Linked DNA regions of Homo sapiens. The protein of the gene in region 1 interacts with the protein of each later gene in a biochemical or structural test. Each region holds a gene or a part of one and is shown in the gene's direction. Other genes may lie near its edges. The genes, in order: CDCA8, KMT2E, TTK, CDH1 and RANBP2.

Evidence for each region.
Region 2: the proteins of CDCA8 (region 1) and KMT2E form a complex in vitro, tested with the Homo sapiens proteins (one study listed by BioGRID).
Region 3: of the proteins of CDCA8 (region 1) and TTK, one has a biochemical effect on the other in vitro, tested with the Homo sapiens proteins (one study listed by BioGRID and IntAct).
Region 4: the proteins of CDCA8 (region 1) and CDH1 form a complex in vitro, tested with the Homo sapiens proteins (one study listed by BioGRID).
Region 5: of the proteins of CDCA8 (region 1) and RANBP2, one has a biochemical effect on the other in vitro, tested with the Homo sapiens proteins (one study listed by BioGRID).

Annotation. Positions count from the first base shown.
Region 1 is NC_000001.11:37,701,643-37,706,015, forward strand, and holds part of CDCA8 (borealin), read left to right. Parts: intron 1-111; coding exon 112-176; intron 177-1,609; coding exon 1,610-1,705; intron 1,706-3,798; coding exon 3,799-3,925; intron 3,926-4,373.
Region 2 is NC_000007.14:105,111,705-105,116,077, forward strand, and holds the end of KMT2E (inactive histone-lysine N-methyltransferase 2E), read left to right. Parts: intron 1-120; coding exon 121-1,629; 3' UTR 1,630-3,315; downstream 3,316-4,373. UniProt on the Homo sapiens protein: Associates with chromatin regions downstream of transcriptional start sites of active genes and thus regulates gene transcription. Chromatin interaction is mediated via the binding to tri-methylated histone H3 at 'Lys-4' (H3K4me3).
Region 3 is NC_000006.12:80,021,037-80,025,409, forward strand, and holds part of TTK (dual specificity protein kinase TTK), read left to right. Parts: intron 1-1,287; coding exon 1,288-1,436; intron 1,437-4,373.
Region 4 is NC_000016.10:68,816,995-68,821,367, forward strand, and holds part of CDH1 (cadherin-1 isoform 1 preproprotein), read left to right. Parts: intron 1-2,285; coding exon 2,286-2,431; intron 2,432-4,373.
Region 5 is NC_000002.12:108,717,984-108,722,970, forward strand, and holds the start of RANBP2 (E3 SUMO-protein ligase RanBP2), read left to right. Parts: upstream 1-1,498; 5' UTR 1,499-1,623; coding exon 1,624-1,695; intron 1,696-4,987. UniProt on the Homo sapiens protein: E3 SUMO-protein ligase which facilitates SUMO1 and SUMO2 conjugation by UBE2I. Involved in transport factor (Ran-GTP, karyopherin)-mediated protein import via the F-G repeat-containing domain which acts as a docking site for substrates.

The DNA of each region.
Region 1 (4,373 bases):
TTAACTATCCAAAGCTTGTTCTTAATGCTTTAAAAAAAAAAAAAAAACCCTCCTTACCTTCCTCTTTGCTGGGTTTTTTGTAACCTTAGTCTCATTTGATTGTGACTGCAGGTCAAAAGGTGTCCTCCATCCAAGAAGAGAACTCAGTCCATACAAGGAAAAGGAAAAGGGAAAAGGTAGTGGATTTTCTAAAGTTGTGGTGTTTTGGGTTTTATTGGAGAGCCATATATATCATGGCAGAAAGTGAGGGGCAGTGAAAAGGCTCTGGTGGCTAGTGTTTGAAAGCAGCTTAAAATCACTGAATCCTTGAGTATCCAAGCTGGAGGGGTCTCTAGAAATGACCTAAACCAAAACCATCTCCAGTACTTTAATGTACATTCTCTATCCTTCCCCACTTTTTTTTTTTTTTTTTTTTGAGACGGAGTTTCAATCTCGTTGGCCAGGCTGGAGTGCAATGGTGCAATCTTGGCTCACTGCAACTTCTGCCTCGCGGGTTCAAATGATTCTCCTGCCTCAGCCTCCCGAGTAGCTGGGATTATAGGCATGTGCCACCATGCCGGCTAATTTTGTATTTTTAGTAGATGCGGGGTTTCTCCATGTTGGTCAGGCTGGTCTTGAACCCCCGACCTCAGGTGATCCACCCACCTCAGCCCCCACTTTTTTTTTTTAAGTATAGCAAGAACTGCCTGTTATGTTTCAGTTCCTGATAGTCCATATGTAGAGCTACCCCATAGCTCGTCATAGAGTGGCTGTCACTTACCTATAATTGGTTTCTTGAAATGTTTTGTCCAGTCCTGCAAAGTGAAGAACCTCTATGGGCTTGAGTTGATTATACTGGACTCTACCATAAGCCATGTGGGGGAAGGTACAGCAGCTTAGGAGAGTAGTCACCGGGATGCATGTCTGTGGAGGAGCGAACTCATTTCTCTTGAGCAGTGCAGCAGCTGCCTGGCACAAGGACAGAATTCCAGCTGGGGGAGCCTTCGCATGAAGAGGCTGTCTCCTTGATTAAAAAGTCAGATTCTGAGGCTGAGTGTGGTGTCTCACACCTGTAATCCCAGCACTTTGGGAGGCCAAGGCAGGTGGATCACTTGAGGTCAGGAGTTTGAGACCCGCCTGGCCAACATGGTGAAACCCTGTCTCTACTAAAAATACAAAAATTAGCCAGGTGTGGTGGTGCATGCCTGTAGTTCCAGCTACTCGGGAGGCTGAGGCAGGAGAATCGCTTGAACCCAGGAGGTGGAGGTTGCAGTGAGCCAAGATTACGCCATTGCACTCCAGCCTGGGCAACAGAGCAAGACTCCGTCTCAAAAAAAAAAAAAAAAGTCAGATTCTGGAGGCAGACTACTTTGGTTCAAAGTTTTGGCTCCATCCTAATTGGATATGTGATCTTGGGCAAGTTTTTAAAACTTGATGCACCTGAGTTTCTGCATCTGTGTATGAGGATGGCAGCAGTGCTGGCCTCCCGTGTTAGAAGGGTCACGTGAGTCGATGTGTGCGAGGCGCCCGGAGCAGTATCTCACAGTCAGCTCTCCACGTGTCACTCCTCTGCTGCTGCCTTCGTGGAACCTGAGAGTTGGCATACCTGATGGCCATTTCTTACCTGTAGGTCAAGCCGTGCTAACACTGTTACCCCAGCCGTGGGCCGATTGGAGGTGTCCATGGTCAAACCAACTCCAGGCCTGACACCCAGGTTTGACTCAAGGTGAGTATCGAGGGAAACACTTGGATTTGATGGGACTCCAACATTGAGCACTACCCAGAGAAGGAGTGTCTAAGAAAATACTCCTAGGCCAGGCACGGTAGCTCACGCCTGTAATACCAGCACTTTGAGAGGCCGAGGCAGGCGGATCACTTGAGGTCAGGAGTTCAAGACCAGCCTGGCCAAGATGATGAAACGCTGCGTCTACTAAAAATACAAAAATTAGTTGGGTGTGGTGGTGCACGCCTGTAATCCCAGCTACTCAGGAGGCTGAGACAGGAGAATTGCTTGAACCCAGGAGGTGGAGGTTGCAGTGAGCTGCAATTGCACCACTGCACTCCAGCCTGGGCAACAGAGTGAGACTCTGTCTTAAGAAAAGAAAAGAAAATAGTCCCGAGTCCTTGGCCTGGGATGCCTTGTCAGAGGACAGTGGCCAGCTGGGTTTCCTGGTGTATGCCTCTCCCTTAAGTGTAGTTTCACCTATCTTCAGTGGCAAAATGATTCTTTAATGGGAGGGAGGTGAATATTCTGCCTGTGATGACTAGGAGGCCTCTAGGTGACGTTTTTGGCCTTTTCTGATTCAAATCAGAAGGTTTTTATTTTATTTTTAAAATATTTATTTATTATGAGGCAGGGTCTCACTCCAATGCCCAGGCTGGAGAGCAGTGGCACAATCACGGCTCACTGCAACCTTGACTTCCCGGGCTCAAGTGCTTCTCCCACCTTAGCTCCCAAGCATGCCACCATGCCTGGCTAATTTTTTGTTTTTTTGTAGCGATGGGATTTCGCCAGGTTGCCCAGGCTGGTCTCGAACTCCTGAGCTCAAGCAATCTGCCCACCTCGGCCTTCCAATGTACTGGGATTACAAGCATGAGCCATCACACCCGGCCTCAAATCAGTTTTTTAAAGATGAGTAGGCACTCTCCTGTACTCTTGGTAGAAGTAAAAATTGATACTGCTTTTTTGGAGGCTGGCATAAGCGAGGATATTCTTGCAGCATAAGTTAATACCTTCCAAAGAACCTAGTTGACCAAATAGGAGATGCTGTATAGCCATTAAAAAAGACTGGATCTGTGTGTGCTGACAGGGAAAGAGCACCGTGATCACAGAGCATCTCCGAGCAGGTTGCTGAACACTGTGCTGTATGATCCCATTTGGTTTTATATACATACAAAGTTTCTGGAAGGATAGATAAGGAATTCAGAGTGGTTACCCCTGGGGAGGAGAGCAAGAAGTGGTTATCTCTGGTGTGGGGAAGTGTTGAAGATTTATTTTCTACTTTTAATTGCCACTTTTTTTTTTTTTTTTTTTTTTTTTTTTTGAGACGGAGTCTCGCTCTGTCACCCAGGCTGGAGTGCAATGGCACAATCTCGGCTCACTGCAACCTCCACCTCTCAGGTTCAAGCAATTCTCCTGCCTCAGCCTCCTGAGTAGCTGAGATTATAGGTACATGCCACCATGCCCAGCTAAGTTTTGTATTTTTAATAGAGACAGGATTTTGCCATGTTGGCCAGGCTGGTCTCGAACTCCTGACCTCAGGTGATCCACCCCCCTCGGCCTCCCAAAGTGCTGGGATTACAGGTATGAGCCACGGCACTCAGCCAGTTCCCACTTTTCTTTACTGTTTGTTTTCTCACATGAATATGTAACAAAAGGCATTTAGGGAAAACTAGGTAGCAGTATTTTAACTGTCTTGAGAAATTAGTATAATGATGTAATATCTAAATCATCCTCCTTTGCCTCTGAAAAATTCCTCTTGATGGAAGCAGCCACGCCTGGAAACAATTAACCAGCGTATTTCTGGCTTTGTGGATGGATGGATGATGGCACCCATATGGAGCTTTGGACCTAAACTTTATGTGGATAAGAGTTGGCTTTTTGTAAGATGTATGTTCAATAATTACAACCTTCTTTCTCCAGCTGTGTTTAGTCATTACTGCTTTAAAACATTTTTTTTTTCTAAATTTAGAACGTGCTTTCTTAGGAATGTATGACTTAAAAACTGCAACTTGAGGCCAGAGTAAGGTTAAAATGGCCTATAGAGTTTGGTGTCATCCAATTGCCAAGCTATCTTCACAGAGATTTTCCCATTCTAGGGTCTTCAAGACCCCTGGCCTGCGTACTCCAGCAGCAGGAGAGCGGATTTACAACATCTCAGGGAATGGCAGCCCTCTTGCTGACAGCAAAGAGATCTTCCTCACTGTGCCAGTGGGCGGCGGAGAGGTGAAGTATTTCCAAGGGAAGCCAGGCCACAGTGTGCTGCTTAGTCAAGCATTTCTTTTCCCTGGGCCCTCACCCACGCTTCACCCTCAGAGTCCTTTCAGTGCGTGGGTCCTGATCTCCACACTTCTGCGGGACTCAGAACCCAGTTTTCTCTCCCAGGTTAGAGGCCCAGACTGCAAAGATCGTTGCTCAGCTCTGGGTTCTGTTTTTCTGTTTTTTGGTTTTGTTTTTGTTTTTTGTGGGTTTTTTTTTTTTTTTTTTGAGATGGAGTCTTGCTCTGTCACCAGGCGGGAGTGCAGTGGTGCGATCTCGGCTCACTGCAACCTCTGCCTCCTGGGTTCAAGCGATTCTCTTGCCTCAGCCTCCTGAGTAGCTGGGACTACAGGCACACGCCATCATGCCCAGCTAACTTTTGTATTTTTGGTAGAGATGGGGGTTTCACCACGTT
Region 2 (4,373 bases), on another chromosome or scaffold:
GATGTTATTTCCTGCCCCCCATTAAAATTAATATTTAGGTAGTATTAAATACCAACAAGAATAAACCTCAAGGTACACAAAATGTTCCTTGAATGTATATAATTTGTTTTCTCTTCATAGCCTGGTTCACCTGGATCTGTAATTCCTGCTCAAGCACACGGGAAAATATTCACAAAACCAGATCCCCAATGGGACTCCACAGTTAGTGCATCCGAAGCTGAAAATGGTGTTCACCTAAAAACAGAGCTCCAACAAAAACAGCTATCAAATAACAACCAAGCACTTTCAAAGAATCATCCTCCTCAGACACACGTTCGTAATTCATCTGAGCAACTTTCACAAAAGCTGCCTTCTGTGCCAACAAAGTTGCACTGTCCTCCATCACCTCACCTAGAAAATCCTCCAAAGTCATCCACGCCTCACACACCTGTACAGCATGGTTATCTTTCACCAAAGCCTCCTTCACAGCAGTTAGGATCTCCCTACAGGCCTCATCATTCACAGTCACCTCAAGTTGGAACACCTCAGCGAGAGCCTCAAAGAAACTTTTATCCAGCAGCACAGAACCTTCCAGCCAATACTCAGCAGGCAACTTCTGGAACATTATTTACACAGACACCCTCAGGACAATCTTCAGCAACATACAGTCAGTTTAACCAACAAAGTCTGAACAGCACGGCACCACCCCCTCCACCTCCTCCACCTCCTTCTTCGTCTTACTATCAAAACCAGCAGCCCTCTGCAAACTTTCAGAATTATAATCAGCTCAAAGGTAGTCTTTCTCAACAAACTGTGTTTACATCAGGACCAAATCAAGCACTTCCTGGCACCACAAGCCAGCAAACAGTTCCAGGACACCACGTGACTCCAGGGCATTTTTTGCCCTCTCAGAACCCTACCATTCACCATCAAACTGCTGCTGCCGTAGTCCCCCCTCCTCCTCCACCACCACCTGCTCCAGGACCGCACCTTGTACAACAGCCGAATTCCCATCAGCAACACTCTGTAGCACATGTAGTAGGGCCTGTTCATGCGGTCACCCCTGGGTCGCATATTCATTCTCAAACTGCTGGACACCACTTACCCCCACCCCCACCCCCTCCTGGTCCTGCCCCTCATCACCATCCACCACCCCATCCATCCACAGGACTCCAAGGTCTACAAGCACAACACCAGCATGTTGTAAATTCAGCACCCCCACCACCCCCTCCGCCGCCACCTTCCAGTGTTTTGGCTTCTGGGCATCATACCACATCAGCTCAAGCCTTACACCACCCACCTCATCAAGGACCTCCACTTTTTCCTTCGAGTGCTCATCCAACTGTACCACCGTATCCCTCACAAGCTACACATCATACCACTTTGGGACCGGGACCCCAGCACCAGCCTTCTGGAACAGGGCCACATTGTCCATTACCTGTCACAGGTCCTCATCTCCAGCCCCAAGGACCAAACAGTATTCCAACACCTACTGCTTCAGGGTTCTGTCCTCATCCTGGCTCTGTGGCCCTGCCACATGGGGTTCAAGGACCTCAGCAGGCATCTCCAGTGCCTGGACAGATTCCAATTCACAGAGCACAGGTGCCACCAACATTTCAAAACAATTACCATGGGTCAGGGTGGCATTAAAATGGACTCCAAAAACATTTTTTTAAATGTTCTGTAAGATAAACTGTATATTTCATATGTACCTGTTAAGGTACTTTTTAAAGCTTGTACATGAACCTTTGTATAAAAAACACCAGTGCTCTTTCGTTGTATTTTTCTCATTTTTGCTTTTTAAAATTCCTTTAAAAAATGTGCTGTTAAGCCAGTATTAGGTATCTTTATTTTGTAAGTGAACATTCCAGCTGTTTTTTTCTGGCAGATCTGATGCTGATTTGATGCTGTATGATCTTTTTTTTTTTTTTAGTTAAATTCATTTAGTGAATGTTCTATTATTTTATACATACACATTAAGTACTCAGCTAAGTAATGGCACTATGAGGATTTTTTTTTTCTTTCCTGTCAGCAGCAGTTCTGTGAATGCATCTTAGGTATAAAAATGCAATACAGATTTTTATATTTTGGTGTGGACATGGCTCATTTTGTTTTACCAGTTATTTGCAAGCAAAATGTAATTTAATGTATAGATGATTTCTAATGTCTCCTGACAAACTGTAAATACTGCATTTCTTTTGCGTATATAATTGCTTACAGCTTTTCTCATTTGATATATAGCATTGTACATATGACAAGTCTTTTGCAAAACTGTGTGATCTTTGTGAAAGTAGTACAGTATATGACCTTTAATTTCTTTTTTATTTTAAATATACTGTCACACTGAAGCACTGGTTGGGCATTTTAATTCATGTTAATAAATCACAATTATGTCAGTTTTACCAGATTGTCCTGTACAACTTCTAAGATCGGGATCTGTGTGTTTCTACAGAAGTTCTAGTTTTCAAATATAGATTGTAAGGAGCCTTCAATTTTCTTTAGCGACTACTACCTCAGCAACAGGAGGCAGCAAGGGGCTGTTCCTGTGGTGGTTTCTGTTTGCATTTTTGCAGGAGCCATAGGAAACTACTGAAATGATTGTGCTGGGTAAATTAAGGATCTGGCATCATACAAAATGAAGCCAGACCACTAATGCATTACAGTAGTTCTTGAATACAAGGTACAACAACTGTTTGAAAATATGGGTAGTTTGCCCAAAACAGGAAAATTTGTCTTGGGTGTAAAAACTAAAGAAAAAAGGCATTATTCCTAGATCTCTCAGTGAAATGAAAATGGCCTCTTAAGTGAACGTTTTTATTGCTAAAATATAAAATGCTAGTTAGTTATTAATTATTAATCTTCAAAAAATTAAAAATTTCCCAGCCTTTGTCTTCTACCTCTGAGGATTCAGTAAGTACATCCAATAATAATGATACTGTTTTATCAATCAACATATTTTTCATCATCCAATTACCTGACATAATTTGGCACAGGATACAAATTCTGTGCATCAGAGAAAGTAAACACTAAAATGACTGCGTGACCTCATTCAGTCATGTTTTTACACTTTGAACCTCTATTTATTTCCTTTTGAAAATTAGCTAATGATGGTACATTAACGCAGCTCACTTAGGGCTCAATCCTAATCACAGCTTCAAATTTTAGAAGAACATATAGGCCAAGTTTGCCATCCTCAATTTGTCCAACAAAATTCTATTTATGGTATTTAGTAAAGAAACATTTGTCTGAGAAGAAATGGTTTTACATCATCTATCCTGATAGTTTCAAACAGAATAAAGGTAACTAGCATGTGAAATAAAAATATTCTTCTTAAAAGGTTTGTCCTTCTAAGCATTTTAAATTCTTCACTGGCTTGAAATGTGCCTACTACAGAAATATGCATACAGAAGCTTTTGTGTGAACTGCAGAATCTTATACATTTTGATTCCTTGATGAAGTATATACTCTAAAATACAGTCTTCTACCAAAATTTCATTCAAGTTATTTAAAAGGGGGAGAAAAAAGGAGAATTTAGGAAATAACCTGAACTATGGATAGAAACTGAAGAAGTTCTCTACTCCAATGGAAAGTTTCCTTACTTTATCGTGGTAACTAGTTATGTATGGTCCAGGTATGGGAAGAAGCAAGTTAGTAAATCGGTTTTCACCTAAGAAGTTTATGACTCGGAAGATCTTATATCCACCTTTTCTCTGCCTTTGGGCAGTTCTGTCTGCCAACTTCTAGATAGCCAGCTCCTGTATCTGCTATAAACACATATGTGATCCACTGCTTGTCATTTTCCATGAAGATTTCACATGGACTACAGAAAGGAAAAGATAGATAGGACATTCAATTGAAGTCAGAGAGCTAGTTATAATGTTTAGCATAACCAGTGGTTCTCATTTAGTTTTTGTGCATTCTTTATCAACAAGCCGCCAAGAATCTGATAAAGCCATATTATGCCTAATACAAATGTATATTCCTTCTAGAACAACCGTTTCTGTATTATAAACTAGTTAGGCTGTTTTATCATAAGGGACACACCTGTAAAAATTCATAATCTAGTTTATTTTCCAACATAAGCAAAAACTGCATTAGACAAATTTCATTCAAGTATACTATCACCCTGATAAAAATCCTTTTACACTTAGGGAAGATATAAATTATGCCCTATGGTTCTTGTAAGGATGTTTCTCATAGAAATCACGGATAGCATCACCAGTCTACAGCCACTATCTATCACAGAATTTACATGGAAACCTACAGCCTCATTAGAAAAACTTAGCATGCAAATTTCATAAAGAAATTAATGAATGATCCATTCTACCTCACAGTGGTAATGTGATATAATGGTAATTCCTAAGAGGATTATGTGTCTTGTTTCCTAACAGCAA
Region 3 (4,373 bases), on another chromosome or scaffold:
TGACCTATACTAGGTCCAGATAACTAGAAAGTGCAGATGGCTAAGATGGAGGATTTCCCAGTACACTCTGGTTAATTTATCCAACCCTTGAATTCTGTTGACCTCCAAGATGCCACTTCCCTTTCACTAACTGAGTGTTACAGCAGCTGATGCCACAAAGGGAAGGGAAGGAAAAATCCTTCAGACAAGGGTGGTCTCCCTAGCTGCTGGGAGTTCCTTAAGGTCCCAGCTGCAGGGTCAGCTAGCCATGAGCAGCTGGCATTTGCAAGTGGCTCCTGCGTTGGCCTGGTAGCCTGAGTGGGTGAGCCTTGGCCTGCTCCCACAGCCAATTGCTCCACTTGTTGGAAACCAGGCGTACAGGCTGAGCCCCTCAAAACACACAGTTCCTCACACAGGGCACCACATTTGTAACTGACTCAAGTCCGGCTCTTCACAACACAGAGGCCAAAAACATGAGAAGTGAGGTGTGGTGGAAGGAAAACAGTTTTATTAATCAAATGCTAGCAGCTGGGGACTGGCCAGGCTCATGCCCTCAAAAGACCATTTCAACTTTTTGGGCTGAGTGAAGGGGTTTAAAAAGGAAAAGGTGTGGAAGAGATGCAGGAGTGGTGCAGGTCTGAATGTCTTGTTGTGATAGTTATATTGAGTAATTGCCCATCTGGAGGTATGGTTTGTGTCATCTTGACTTCAGCTGGGTAATGCTAGGCTAACTGTTCGAAACTCCCCCCATGCAAGAGGAGTCTGCAACTCCATCTCTGCTTGGTTTGTTTCAAAACTGGCCCCTGAAATTTCTAAGCAAGTACGTAATTAGATAAGTGAACACTGTTCATGGACATGCCTGGTGGGAAAGGGAGAAACTAAGGGTTTCAAAGTATGCTTCCAGGCTGAAAGCAAAAAGGAAAAAAAAATGTTCTAAATTGCATTTTGAGGGTTGGATACTCGGTCTATGAAAAGTGATGAATTAGCTTCTCTATTAGTAAGACTTTATAACATCTATATGTTTTTAAATTTTTACTTATTTATTGGTAAAGAAGCATTTAAATGTGGCAAGGTCTCTGACAAAGTTCTTAGTAACAATGTAGGAAGATGACTATAGTGCAACTTTGTGAAATTGACTTGCTAAAAGCAAATTGTTAAGCAGCTGGCTTAAAGCTTTTAGTTTCTCTCCCTCCTTGATTGTTTTTAAGAACTAAATACTCATATAGTTTGTAATATGTTCTGTTGTTTAGGCTTAGTTTATTATGATCAAATATTCTTGCTTTTTAATGACAACAAATACAATTTCAGAAACTAAAGAGTATCAAGAACCAGAGGTTCCAGAGAGTAACCAGAAACAGTGGCAATCTAAGAGAAAGTCAGAGTGTATTAACCAGAATCCTGCTGCATCTTCAAATCACTGGCAGATTCCGGAGTTAGCCCGAAAAGTTAATACAGAGGTAACTTTTCCACTAAAGTACAATATTGCTTTTTTGTTCATAATGCATTTCCGAAGGTTGATGATCATATTAAATGTTTTCTTTTATTAAATGTGTATGATATTTAGTAGAATAGTTTATTTAAAGGTTTTTAAAATCATTTATAAAGTGGTGATCAGTAGCAGTCATACGTTCAGTAAGTCAGGCTAAATTATTTTCTATCTTCGATAGTGTTTCTAGATTGCCGATAGACTGGTGCTATGGGCCAAATCTAGTTCTTAGCCTGATTGTGTAAATAAAGACTTACTGGAACACTGACACACTCATTCATTTAATGTCTATGGCTGCTTTTGCATTATAAGAGCAGAGTTGATTAGTTGTATTAGAGACCACTTGGCCTGCAAAGTTTAAAATGTTTACTATCTGGTCCTTTACCGAAAACTGTATGCTGATCTCTGAACTAGCGCAGTGCTGTCCCAAGCACTTAACAGTTTCCTGTGGTCATACTCATTGATAAAAATAGAAAAATATAGCCTAGACAACGTACATGAATTTGTAACATACTGAGTCATCATTCCTGGTGGCTTTTCGGAAGGAATGATCAAGTAGGATACTAAAGAGCTATAGCTGCAGTTCATGGCCATAGTTTCCTTACCATTTCTTTTCAGTGACTTGTAGTAAATATAGTAAAGGCTTTATTAATTCAGTGGTTCTCAAACATTTGGCCTTTTATACTCTTAATTATCAGTGCCCCTAAAGAGCTTTTGTTTATGTTGATTATATCTATCTCTATTTACTATATTAGGAAGTAAAGCCAAGAAACTTTAAAAATGTTTATTAATTTATTAAAAATAACTGAGGGCTGGGCACGATGGCTCACGCCTGTAATCCCAGCACTTTGGGAGGCCAAGGCGGGCAGATCACGAGGTCAGGAGATCGAGACCATCTTGGCTAACATGGTGAAACCCTGTCTCTACTAAAAATACAAAAAATTAGCCGGGTGTGGTGGTGGGCGCCTGTAGTCCCAGCTACTTGGGAGGCTGAGGCAGGAGAATGGTGTGAACCCAGGAGGCGGAGCTTGCAGTGAGCAGATATCATGCCACTGCACTCCGGCCTGGGTGACAGAGCGAGACTCTGTCTCAAAAAAAATAAAATGAAATAAAATAACTGATAAACTCATGTGAATATAAATGTACTTTTATGAAAAATATGTATTTTCTGAAACAAAATAACTACAGTGGGAAGAGTAGCACTGTGTTAGAGTTTTTACAAATCTAATGATTGGCTTAACAGAAGACTAGATTCTTATGTCTGCTTTTGCATTCAATGTATTTCATTATTACATGTCATACAGTCTCTGGAAAACTCCTTATATACTCATGAGAAAATAAAAGTGAGAAAGGTAAATATTGTCATAGTAAGATCTCTTAAGTAGTAGATGTAGATAACAAATGCTAGATGATAAGGATCCTGATAGGTTGAGTCATAGATTGTATCAAACCAGCATCTCCTCTTTTTTTTCTATTTGAAAATTGTACACTAATAGGATTGTAAGGGAACTGAAAACCATATGGATCATTAAAGAAATGCAAAGCAAAACCATAATTAGATACTACTTCACACCCACTAGGACGGCTGTAATTCAAGAGACAATAACAAGTGTTGGCAAGGATGTGGAGAATTTTAGAACCTTCATATGCTGCTAGTGGGAATGTAAAATGGTGCAGTCATTTTGGATAAGAGTCTGGGAGTTCTTCAAAAGGTTAAACGTAGCTTTATATGATCCAATAATTCCACTCCTAGGTTTGTAGTTAAGAGAATTGAAAACATACATCCACACAAATATTTGTACATAAATATTCATAGCAGCATTTTCATAATTGCCAAAAAGTGGAAATAACAAAATATCCAACCGATGAATGGATAAAGAAAATGTGGTACATCCATACAATGGAATGTTAATCAACAATAAACAGTAATGAAGTACTAGTACATGTTACAACATAAGTGAACATTTACAACGTGCTAAGTGAAAGAAGCTCACCACAAAAGCCCATATATTTTATGATCCCATTTAGATAAAATGGTCAGAATAGGCAAATCCATAGAGGTGGAAAGTAGATTAGTGGTTGCCAGGGGCTGGGAGCAGTGGGGAGTGGGGAGTGATTGCTAATGGGTGTGAGTTTTCTTTTTAGAAGACGAAAATATTCTAAAATTGGATTGTGGTGATGGTTGCACAGCTGTGAACCACTGAGCAACTAAAAACCATTGAATAGTACACGTAGAAAGAAAAAGTATAGAATCTAGGCAGTTTCTTGTGGATACTGCTTGTCCAGCAGTCCCTTCAAGGGAGGATTGTTTTTGTCTCACATCTCACTTACCATATGGCTGTGTGCTCTCTGTTCTGTGTCCAGACCATTTCTTCCTCTTTCTTGCAAAAGGCCTGCTCTTTTGATACTTCTGACTTACTCTCATCTCTGAATGTCCTGGTAACTCCCCATCATTCCTTGAAGATACAAGGCTCTGGATCAACCAGATCCCAACAACTGTCATTGTTTTTGTTGGCTTCTACACCCCTGTGTATTACCAGTCCTACAGCTGGCCTTCATTTTTCTAACTTCTTCGTGTCTCATGACCATTTCCTTAATTTTACTTTAGCCACCTACTCCTTATATCCTCAATTCTGACCTCCAAAATCGCAGATGCTAACATTCCACTCTATGATCGTGATCTTTTTCATTTTCCTTGTTCATTAATCTTATTACAGCAGTTCCTCAGTAACATCTTTACCACTAATCTTAAAATATGTGCGTGCTTGTACGTGAGCACAGACACACGAAGTCTTAAATGAGAGGGAAAATTTATCCTGGAAAAAAAATTTCTTGGCCAAGACTGAAATGTAGAAAGTAGGATAGATTTAGTCATTGTAATTCTCAAGTGCGTAATGAGGACCAGTGT
Region 4 (4,373 bases), on another chromosome or scaffold:
CCTGGGGCAGATTCAGGGACCAGGTCTTTAGTGTCTGTTTCCAGAGGCCCTTACGCCTGGAACAATGACCACTTGATGTAATTCATTGCTTTGCACTTCCAAAGAAGTGAGGCCAAGCCCACAGTTTCTTAGAGCCCTTTCCTCCTTTGATTTCTTAGTTTCTCTTTCAGAGCCTTTCCATGACCCTAGTAAATAACTGAGCAGTAGATCTCTGTTAGCCTCCCTGTACCTCCCATTAAATGGCAATAGTGCAGTCCACCCACAGGTCAACAGGGCAACCTGCATCTCCAGATGTTCATGACAGGAGAGGAGGTGGCATGTTGCCACCATTTAGGAACTACTGTATTGTTTGGGGGAGCTGGTCTGCAGGAGTCTGCTTTTAAAAATAAATAAGGATTATAGTAATCATTGCTTCAGCAAGAATCATCCACAGATGCCAAATCCATTGGGTGAAAATTAGTTGCTGAACAAGATATTCTCAAATTATCTACCTGCAGATTATAGGTTAATCATGCAGTGAAAAAAGGCACCTTTGCTGTGAAGAAATCTGGTGGCCTTTCCCTTATCCAAGTGATCAAAGTTATCAATAGAAGCACAGACAGACATCATGTGCCTCCCAGTGTCCTGCACTAGGGAGGCCACAGCATCACCTCTGTCCTGTTCTTGCCCCCACCGACCCCTGAAATGGATTACCTGAATCTAAATTTTGAGGAATAATCAGACAAACCCAAGTTAAGGGGCATGCTACAAAACAACGGCCAGCACATTTCAAAAATGTCAGTGACAGAAAAGAAAGACCTAAGGAAGAGCCATGCCAACGAAAGGCCATATTGGATCCTGAATCCAGAAGGGTGCAAGGTTGCTATAAAGGACATTTTTGGAAAATCTGACAATTCGAATATGCACCATATATTCGACAATAGAATTCTATCAAAGTTTTGTTTCCTAAAATTGAAAATCAAGACTGGTCACGGTGGCTCACACCTGCAATCCCAGTGCTTTGGGAGGCCGAGATGGGTGGATCATCTGAGGTCAGGAGATCGAGACTATCCTGGCTAACATGGTGAAACCTCGTCTCTACTAAAAATACAAAAAATTAGCCGGGCGTGGTGGCGGGTGCCTGTAGACCCAGCTATTCAGGAGGCTGGGGCAGGAGAATGGCATGAACCTGGGAGGTGGAGCTTGCAGTGAGCTGAGATCACGCCACTGTACTCCAGCCTGGGCGACAGAACGAGACTCTGTCCCAAAAAAAAAAAAAAAGAAAAGAAAAAAAAAGAAAATCAAATTGGGGTTATATAACAGAATGCCTTTGTTCTTAGGAGATAACACATTGACATATTTATAAGTAAAGGAACATGACTTCTGCAATTTATTTGCAGATGGTTCAGCAGAACAAGAAATTATGTAGGCGTGTGTCAATATAGACAGAGCAGATGTGGCAAAGTATTAACAATGAGTAAACTCAGGTGAAGAGTTCATGGATGGTCATCATACTATTATAGTAACTTGTCTGTTGTATTGTTGGTTTTCTTGGTTTTCTTTTTTTTTTTTTTTTTTTAAAGACGGAGTTTCGGCCGGGCGCGGTGGCTCACGCCTGTAATCCCAGCACTTTGGGAGGCCGAGACGTGCGGATCATGAGGTCAGGAGATCGAGACCATCCTGGCTAAAACGGTGTAAACCGCGTCTCAACTAACAATACAAAAAAATTAGCCGGGCGTGATGGCGGGCGCCTCTAGTCCCAGCTACTCCGGAGGCTGAGGCAGAAGAATGGTGTGAACCCAGGAGGTGGAGCTTGCAGCGAGCCGACATCGCGCCACTGCACTCCAGCTTGGGCTACAGAGCAAGACTCCGTCTCAAAAAAAAAAAAAAAAAAAAAGAAAGAAAGGGTTTCACTTTTGTTGCCCAGGCTGGAGTGCAGTGGTGCAATCTCGGCTCACTGCAACCTCCATCTCCCAGGTTCAAACGATTCTCCTGCCTCACCCTCCCCAGTAGCTGGGATTACAGGCGTGTGCCACCACACCCAGCTAATTTTTGTATTTTTAGTAGAGACAGGGTTTCACCATGTTGACCAGGCTGGTCTCAAACCCCTGACCTCAGGTGATCTGCCCACCTCAGCCTCCCAAAGTGTTGGGATTACAGGCATGAGCCACCGCGACCGGCCTATTGTTGGTTTTCAAAATAAAAACGTTGGAAGTAACCATATAACTGAAGAAGCGCTTAAGCCGTTTTCAGCTACATGTTGTTTGCTGGTCCTATTCTAAAAGCCAGAGCTTGTCCCCGTTCAGATATCGGATTTGGAGAGACACTGCCAACTGGCTGGAGATTAATCCGGACACTGGTGCCATTTCCACTCGGGCTGAGCTGGACAGGGAGGATTTTGAGCACGTGAAGAACAGCACGTACACAGCCCTAATCATAGCTACAGACAATGGTAAGGGGGCCTCATCTGAGCCTTTGCTGCCTCGACCTCCTAGCTAGTTCAGTTCCTTGCCCCTCCCTTCTTTTGGAGGGAAGAGTTCATTCTTTTTCTTTTATCCTTTTTGTTTGCTGGATTGATTTGTATAAATGTATGGAGTACAAGGGTAATTTTGTTACATGCATAGATGTGTAGTGGTAAAGTCAGGGCTTTTAGGGTATCCGTCACCCAAATAACATGCATTGTACCCATTAAGTAATTGTTCATCATCTACCCCCTCCCACCCCTTGGACCCTTCCCAGCTGCCATTGTCTATCATTCCACAATCTACATCCATGTGTACACATTATCGAACTCCGACTTCTAAGTGAGAACATGCAGTATTTCTCCTTATATGTCTGATTCGTTTCACTTGAGACAATGGCCTCCAGTTTCATCCATGTTGCTGCAAAAGATTTCTCTTTTATTCTTAAACAAAGGCATTCTTATTATCAAAAATTCAAGTGGGCTGGGCACGGTGACTCACACCTGTAATCCCAGCACTTAGAGAGGCTGAGGTGGGAGGATCACTTGAGCCCAGGAGTTCAAGACCAGCCTGGGTAACATGGCAAAACCCTGTCTCTACAAAAAGTACATAAATTAGCTGAGTGTGTTGGTGAGCACCTGTAGGCCCAGCTACTCAGAAGGCTGAAGTGGTAGGATTGCTTGAGTCTGAAAGGTGGAGGCTGCAGTGAGCCAAGATTGCGCCACTGCTCTCCATCCTGGGCAACAGAGCAAGACTCTGTCTCCAAAAAAAAAATTGTTTTTTCAAGTAATTTTGGTCAAACAGAACTTACTTTTCACTACTCACTCTTTATTCCTTCCCTAAGGGAACCAGGTAATGATGGTTTACAATCCATTTCCAAAGCTTAATACTTGTGTGACCTTGGATTTGCTGTTTAATTTTTTTTTTTTTTTTGAGACAGAGTCTTGCTCTGTCACCCAGGCTGGAGTGCAGTGGTGCAATCTTGGCTCACTGCAGCTTCCGCCTCCCAGGTTCAAGCAATTGTCCTACCTCAGCCTCCCAAGTAGCTGGGATTACAGGTGTGCACCACCACGCCCAGCTAATTTTTTGTATTTTTAGTAGAAACGGGGTTTCACCATATTGGCCAAGCTGGTCTTGAACTCCTGACCTTGTGATCTGCCCACCTTGGCCTCCCAGAGTGCTGGGATTACAGGTGTGAGCCACCGTGCCTGGCCTGCTGTTTAATTTTTATGTCCCTCAATTCCTTTACCTGAAAAATGTTAATACCCATGTGGGTGAAATTAGTTAGGTGTTAAATCAGTTAGGTGTGGGTCCTTCCAGACTGCTTCTGTGTATTTAAATACATTTATAGGCTGGGTGCTAGGGTCACACCTGTAATCCCAACACTTTGGGGGTCTGAGGTGGGAGATGGCTTGAGGCCAGGAGTTCAAGACTAGCCTGGGCAACATACTGCCCATAATCTCAAAATGCTGGGATTACAGGCATGAGTTATCATGCTTGGCCTCCTTGAGTTAATTTTAAATGACGTGTGCTCATTGTTAAAAAATAAAATTTACATGAGAAAAAAGTTTTAAAAATTTACAGTCATGCCATCTAGACATATCTATTTATAGGTTTGAGATGGATTCTTCTGTTGTTTTGTATCCGTATCGTATACTAATATTGATGATAGTTCCCTGGGTACCAATTTTTCCTACTACCATATGCTCCGTGTTGTGTCAAGATATAAAAGAAATGCAAACAGAAGTGTGGATGGGCTGGGCGCAGTGGCTCACGCCTATAATCCCAACACTTTCAGAGGCTAAGATGCGAGGATCACTTGAGCTCAAGAGTTCAAGACCAGCCTGAGCAACATGATAAGACCCCCTCTCTACAAAAAAAATTTAAAAACTAGCCAAGCATGGTGGCATGCGCCTGTAGTCTCAGCTACTA
Region 5 (4,987 bases), on another chromosome or scaffold:
GGGGGGCTATTCCTTTTCCTTTTTTTTTTTTTTTTTGAGACAAGGGTCTCACTCTGGTGCCCAGGATGGAATGCAGTGGCGCTATCACAGTTCATTGTAACCTGGAACTCCTGGACTCGAGGGATCCTCCCGCCTCGACCTCCCAAAGTGCTGGGGCTACCAGCTTAAGCCACTGTGCCAGGCGAATGGCTATTCCTATATACACAGTTGACCCTTGAATAACATGGGTTTGAACTGCCTGGGCCCGCTTATAAGCCGACAGAAAATACAGTATTGGAGGGGCCTGCATATAGAGAGGTCTGACTTTTCCTCTAAGTGTTCCACCCGCAGGACTGACTGCGGGATTTGAGAATGCGCGGACTTCTTCTTCTTCTTTTTTTTTTTAGGAAGTCTTACTCTCGCCCAGGCTTGAGTGCAGTGGCGCGATCTCAGCTCACTGTAACCCTCGCCTCTCAGTTTCAAGCGATTCTCGTGCCTCAGCCTCCCGAGTAGCTGGGATTATAGGGGCCCACCTCCACGCCCAGGTAATTTTTTGTATTTTTAGTAGAGATGGGCTTTCGCCATGTTGGCCAGGCTGGTTTCGAACTCCTGACCTCAGGTGATCCGCCCGCCTCGGCCTCCCAAAGTGCTGGGATTACAGGCGTGAACCACAGCGCCCGGCGGAATGCGTGGATTTTGGCATAAGACGGTGGTTCTGGAACCAATCCCCCGCCGAGATGACTGTTTAAAAAATTGTAATTGTCCAAAACTTAATATTTGTGGTCTTTTTCATTATGCAGTTCTAAATCTCCCTTTTTTTTTTTTTTTAAATTCAGACGGAGTCTCCCTCTGTCGCCCAGACGGCGCAATCTCGGCTCACTGCAACCTCCGCCTCCCGGGTTCAAGCGATTCTCCTGCCTTAGCCTCCGGAGTAGCTGGGACTACAGGCGTCCGACACCACGGCCGGCTAATTTTTTGTATTTTTGGTAGAGATGGGGTTTCCCTGTGCTAGCCAGGATGGTCTCGATTTCCTGACCTCATGATCCGCCCGCCGTGGCCTCTCAAAGTGCTGGGATTACAGGCGTGAGCCACCACGCCTGGCCCTCATTTAATAAGATATGAATTTAAAAATGTATGCTTTAGTATTCACACATGTCCGATGCAACGTATTTAACCAGTCATCTCCAGAAACTTTGTTCCAATTTACACGTTCACCAAATTGGCCTGAGTGCTTTTTTTCTTCCAATGCATTGCGCACTTATAATTTAGAACAAGTGACCAAAACGCTTAAGAGCCCATCACGCAAATTGTTATCTGCTGGAAATCTACGCCCTAGGCTGTGGACACTGGCGGCCGAAATCTGATCCCGGCTTGCCAAGACACCCTCAGAGCACGCGGCGCTGCCAAGAGCCTGGCCGAGTGCAGCTCGAGCGCCGACGTCGCCAACGTGGCGCACACTGCTGACGCAGTACGCAAGTTCGTCACAGTGGTCCTCCGCCGGCTGCGCCGCAAGTTCGTCACAGTGGTCCTCCGCCGGCTACGGCGCTGCGTCACTGGTTTGCAGGCGCTTTCCTCTTGGAAGTGGCGACTGCTGCGGGCCTGAGCGCTGGTCTCACGCGCCTCGGGAGCCAGGTTGGCGGCGCGATGAGGCGCAGCAAGGCTGACGTGGAGCGGTACATCGCCTCGGTGCAGGGCTCCACCCCGTCGCCTCGACAGGTGAGTGGGTCTCGAAGAGACCGACGGCCTCGACCTGGCCGGGCGGCGGCCTCGCGCTGCTCAGGCGTCATGGCTCCCGACGGGCGCTGCTCCCTGGCGCGCTCTGTTGAGGCGCCGGCCGGCTGGCGCAGTCCTGTGGGCGGCGTGGCGCTTGCAAGCGCATGAAGAGTCCTGGGGGGACAGCGGTGGGCGGGAGACCTTTGGCGCCGGCGCTTCCTCTTTCTCCCGGCTTGTTCCCGACGCTTGTTCCCGACGGTGCTCGCTCCTGGGGCCGCCCTGGCCCGGGCTTTCTGGCCGATCGCGCACCCCGTAGTACCCGCGCGGCCTAGTTCTCGGGGGCTTGGGCACCCGGGTGCTGTATCGGCGGGTTTCTTCCCATCTCCTGGACATATACTTTATATGCTGCGGCGGAGGTCGTACCTCCTTGGCCTGGAGGAACCCAGTGGGGACTGACGCAGCTCCGGGTGAGCTTTGGCGGCTGCGTCGAGTGACAAGGTAGGCATCTCAGCGCGGACATTTGCAATGGCCCGACGGCGCAAATGACACTGAAAGTCCCCTTGTTTTGAGTATGAGGTGTTTGTCGCTGTCCCTTTGTAAGGGTCCAGCTCCACTCCGCTCCTCATACTCACCTCCCTCGCCCCCCTCCCCGCCCGGAACACTTTGGTAGCTGCCTTTGCTTAAAAAAAAAAAATTCTAAAGTTCTTACAAATCGTTAGTATGGCTTGCAATTTTTAACCTTTTCCACAAATGTTTTAAGGGTATTTTTCCTCTTTACATGTAAATAATGTGATCTATTTTGGATTCAATAAGACTTTAGTAATTGGATCTAAAGAGTGACGGAAGAAGCTATTAAAGGTGGATGTGCGCAGAATCTTGAGTCAGTTTGCTTTGGCTTGAATAATCACAGCACTGTCGTTTATAAGCTGGGTATTTGGGGCCAGTTACACTTTTCATCCATAGATGGAGTTGTAACATTAATAGAATTTGATAGGATGATCCATTTTAAACATTTAGGGTATTGCTTGACACATAGCACTAAATGTTAGCTACAAGTCACTTTTTATTGTTGATGTTAAAAGGATATTGGCGGGGCGCAGTGGCTCACGCCTGTAATCCCACCACTTTGGGAGGCCGAGGAGGGCGGATTGCCTGAGGTCAGGAGTTCGTGACCAGCCTGGCTAACATGTTGATACCTCGTCTCTACTAAAAATACAAAAAAAGTTAGCCGGGCGTGGTGGCGCATGCCTGTAGTCCCAGCTACCCGGGAGGCTGAGGCAGGAGAGTCGCTTGAACCCGGGAGGCGGAGGTTCCAGTGAGCCGAGATCGCGCTACTGCACTCCAGCCTGGGCGACAGAGGGAGACTCCAAAAAAACAAAAACAAAAACAAAAAAAACCCGGAAACTCACGGATGACCATGATTATAATAGTAGCATAATTGTGTCTCTTATCGTAACTAAGCATAGGTTATCTTATTTTGCGCTTCCAGCAGCCCTGTGGATATTGAGACCTGTAGAGATTTAAGATACTTGTTCAGGGTCAAATAGATAGTGCAGCAGAATTTTGGCAGTGGGTCTGATTTAGTTTCTCTTGGGAACAGTGGAGTAAGTTACAGTCTATTCCTCCAGAGGAGGAGGATAGATATCTACTTGTACATTGTAATTTCAAACTGCTAGCATAGTATAAATATGAATGTGATGATAGAGTCTAAAACAGACCTTAATTGAGGGTTCCTGTAACTCCTGAAATTAAAGACTTTAATTTTTGTGTTATTTTATTTTTTTTGAGGTGGGGTCTCACTCTGTCACCCAGCTGGATGCAGTGGCGCTATCTCGACTCACTGCACCTTCCGCCTCCCCAGCTCAAGCGATGCTCCCACCTCAGTCTCCCGAGTAGTTGGGACCACAGGTGTACCCACCACACCCGCTGTTTTGTTTTGTTTTGTATTTTTGGTAGAGACTGGGTTTCACCATGTTGCCCAGGCTGTTCTTGAACTCCTGGGCTCAAGTGATTTCCCCGCCTCCACTTCCCAAAGTGTTGGGATTATAGGCGTGAGCCACTGCACCGGCCATTATTTTATTTTTGAGACAAGGTCTCTTTCTGTCTCCCAGGCTGGAGTGCTGTGGCGGGATCGTGGCTCACTGCAGCGTTGACGTCCTGGGCTCAATCCATCCTCCCACCTTAGCCTCCTGGGTAGCTGAGACTACAGGCATGTGCCACCATGCCCGGCTTTTTTCTTTAATGTAGAGACGGGGTCTTATCATGTTACCCAGGCTGGTCTCCAACTCCTGGGCTCAAGTGATCCTCCCGCCTTGGCCCCAAGTGCTGAGATTACAGGTGTGAGCCACTCTGCTCAGCCTGATTTTTTTTTTTTTAAACAAGCTTAAAAAAAAAAAAAAGCAAGCTTAGAGCCTTTCTGAGATTCTTAGTGGGGACCTTGGCTTCCAAAAGATTAAAAACCACTGGTCTAGACAGAAGTTAGAATGTTCTTTCAACTACATAACTTCTCCATTAAATAAAGTGGAGTGGTGGCAGAATTTTGAGGATTGGTTATTATGACACCTCTCTTACACTTAGAGTCTTTTTTTTCCCCCAAATTTAAAGTCATTTACATTAGAACCTGGGGATTTCAGCGGAATATGGATTAACTAGTGAGTAACTTTGGAACATGTGAAGCTATTCTGTAAAGTTAGGTTTGAGTGAAATGACAAAACAGGGTGCTTTGGATAGAAGGTAAAGAATGGAGGGAGAAGAGGCAGTGGCTGTGAAGAATATGAAGAGGTTAGTATTCTCCCCCAGTTTGGCAGAGGCTGGCCATCTGTGAACTGCCCATGCTTTCTAGAATGTCGGAGTTTTGGAGTGTGATGATGCGTCTGTATATCATATCTTTCTAGTCTTTCATTGTGCTTTCATTTGTTAGTCTTCTCTTGTTTTGCCATTTTTCTACTCCCTCACATGTGCTTTTGCCCTTAAAAATATTCTTCGTCTGTAATCTGAGCACTTTGGGAGGCCGAGAGACCAGCCTGACCAATATGGTGAAAATCCGTCTCTATTAAAAATACAAAAATGAGCCGGGCGTGGTGGCAGCGCCTGTAGTCCCACCTACTCGGTAGGCTGAGACAGGAGAATTGCTTGAACCCTGGAGGCAGAGGTTGTGGTGAGCAGAGATTGCACCACTGCACTCCAGCCTGTGTGACAGAGCGAGACTCTGTCTCCAAAAAAGAAAAAAAGAAAAAAAAATATAATTCTTTCTCTAGTTTTTCTTTTTCCAGATGGCTTCTGTTTAGTTTTTCTA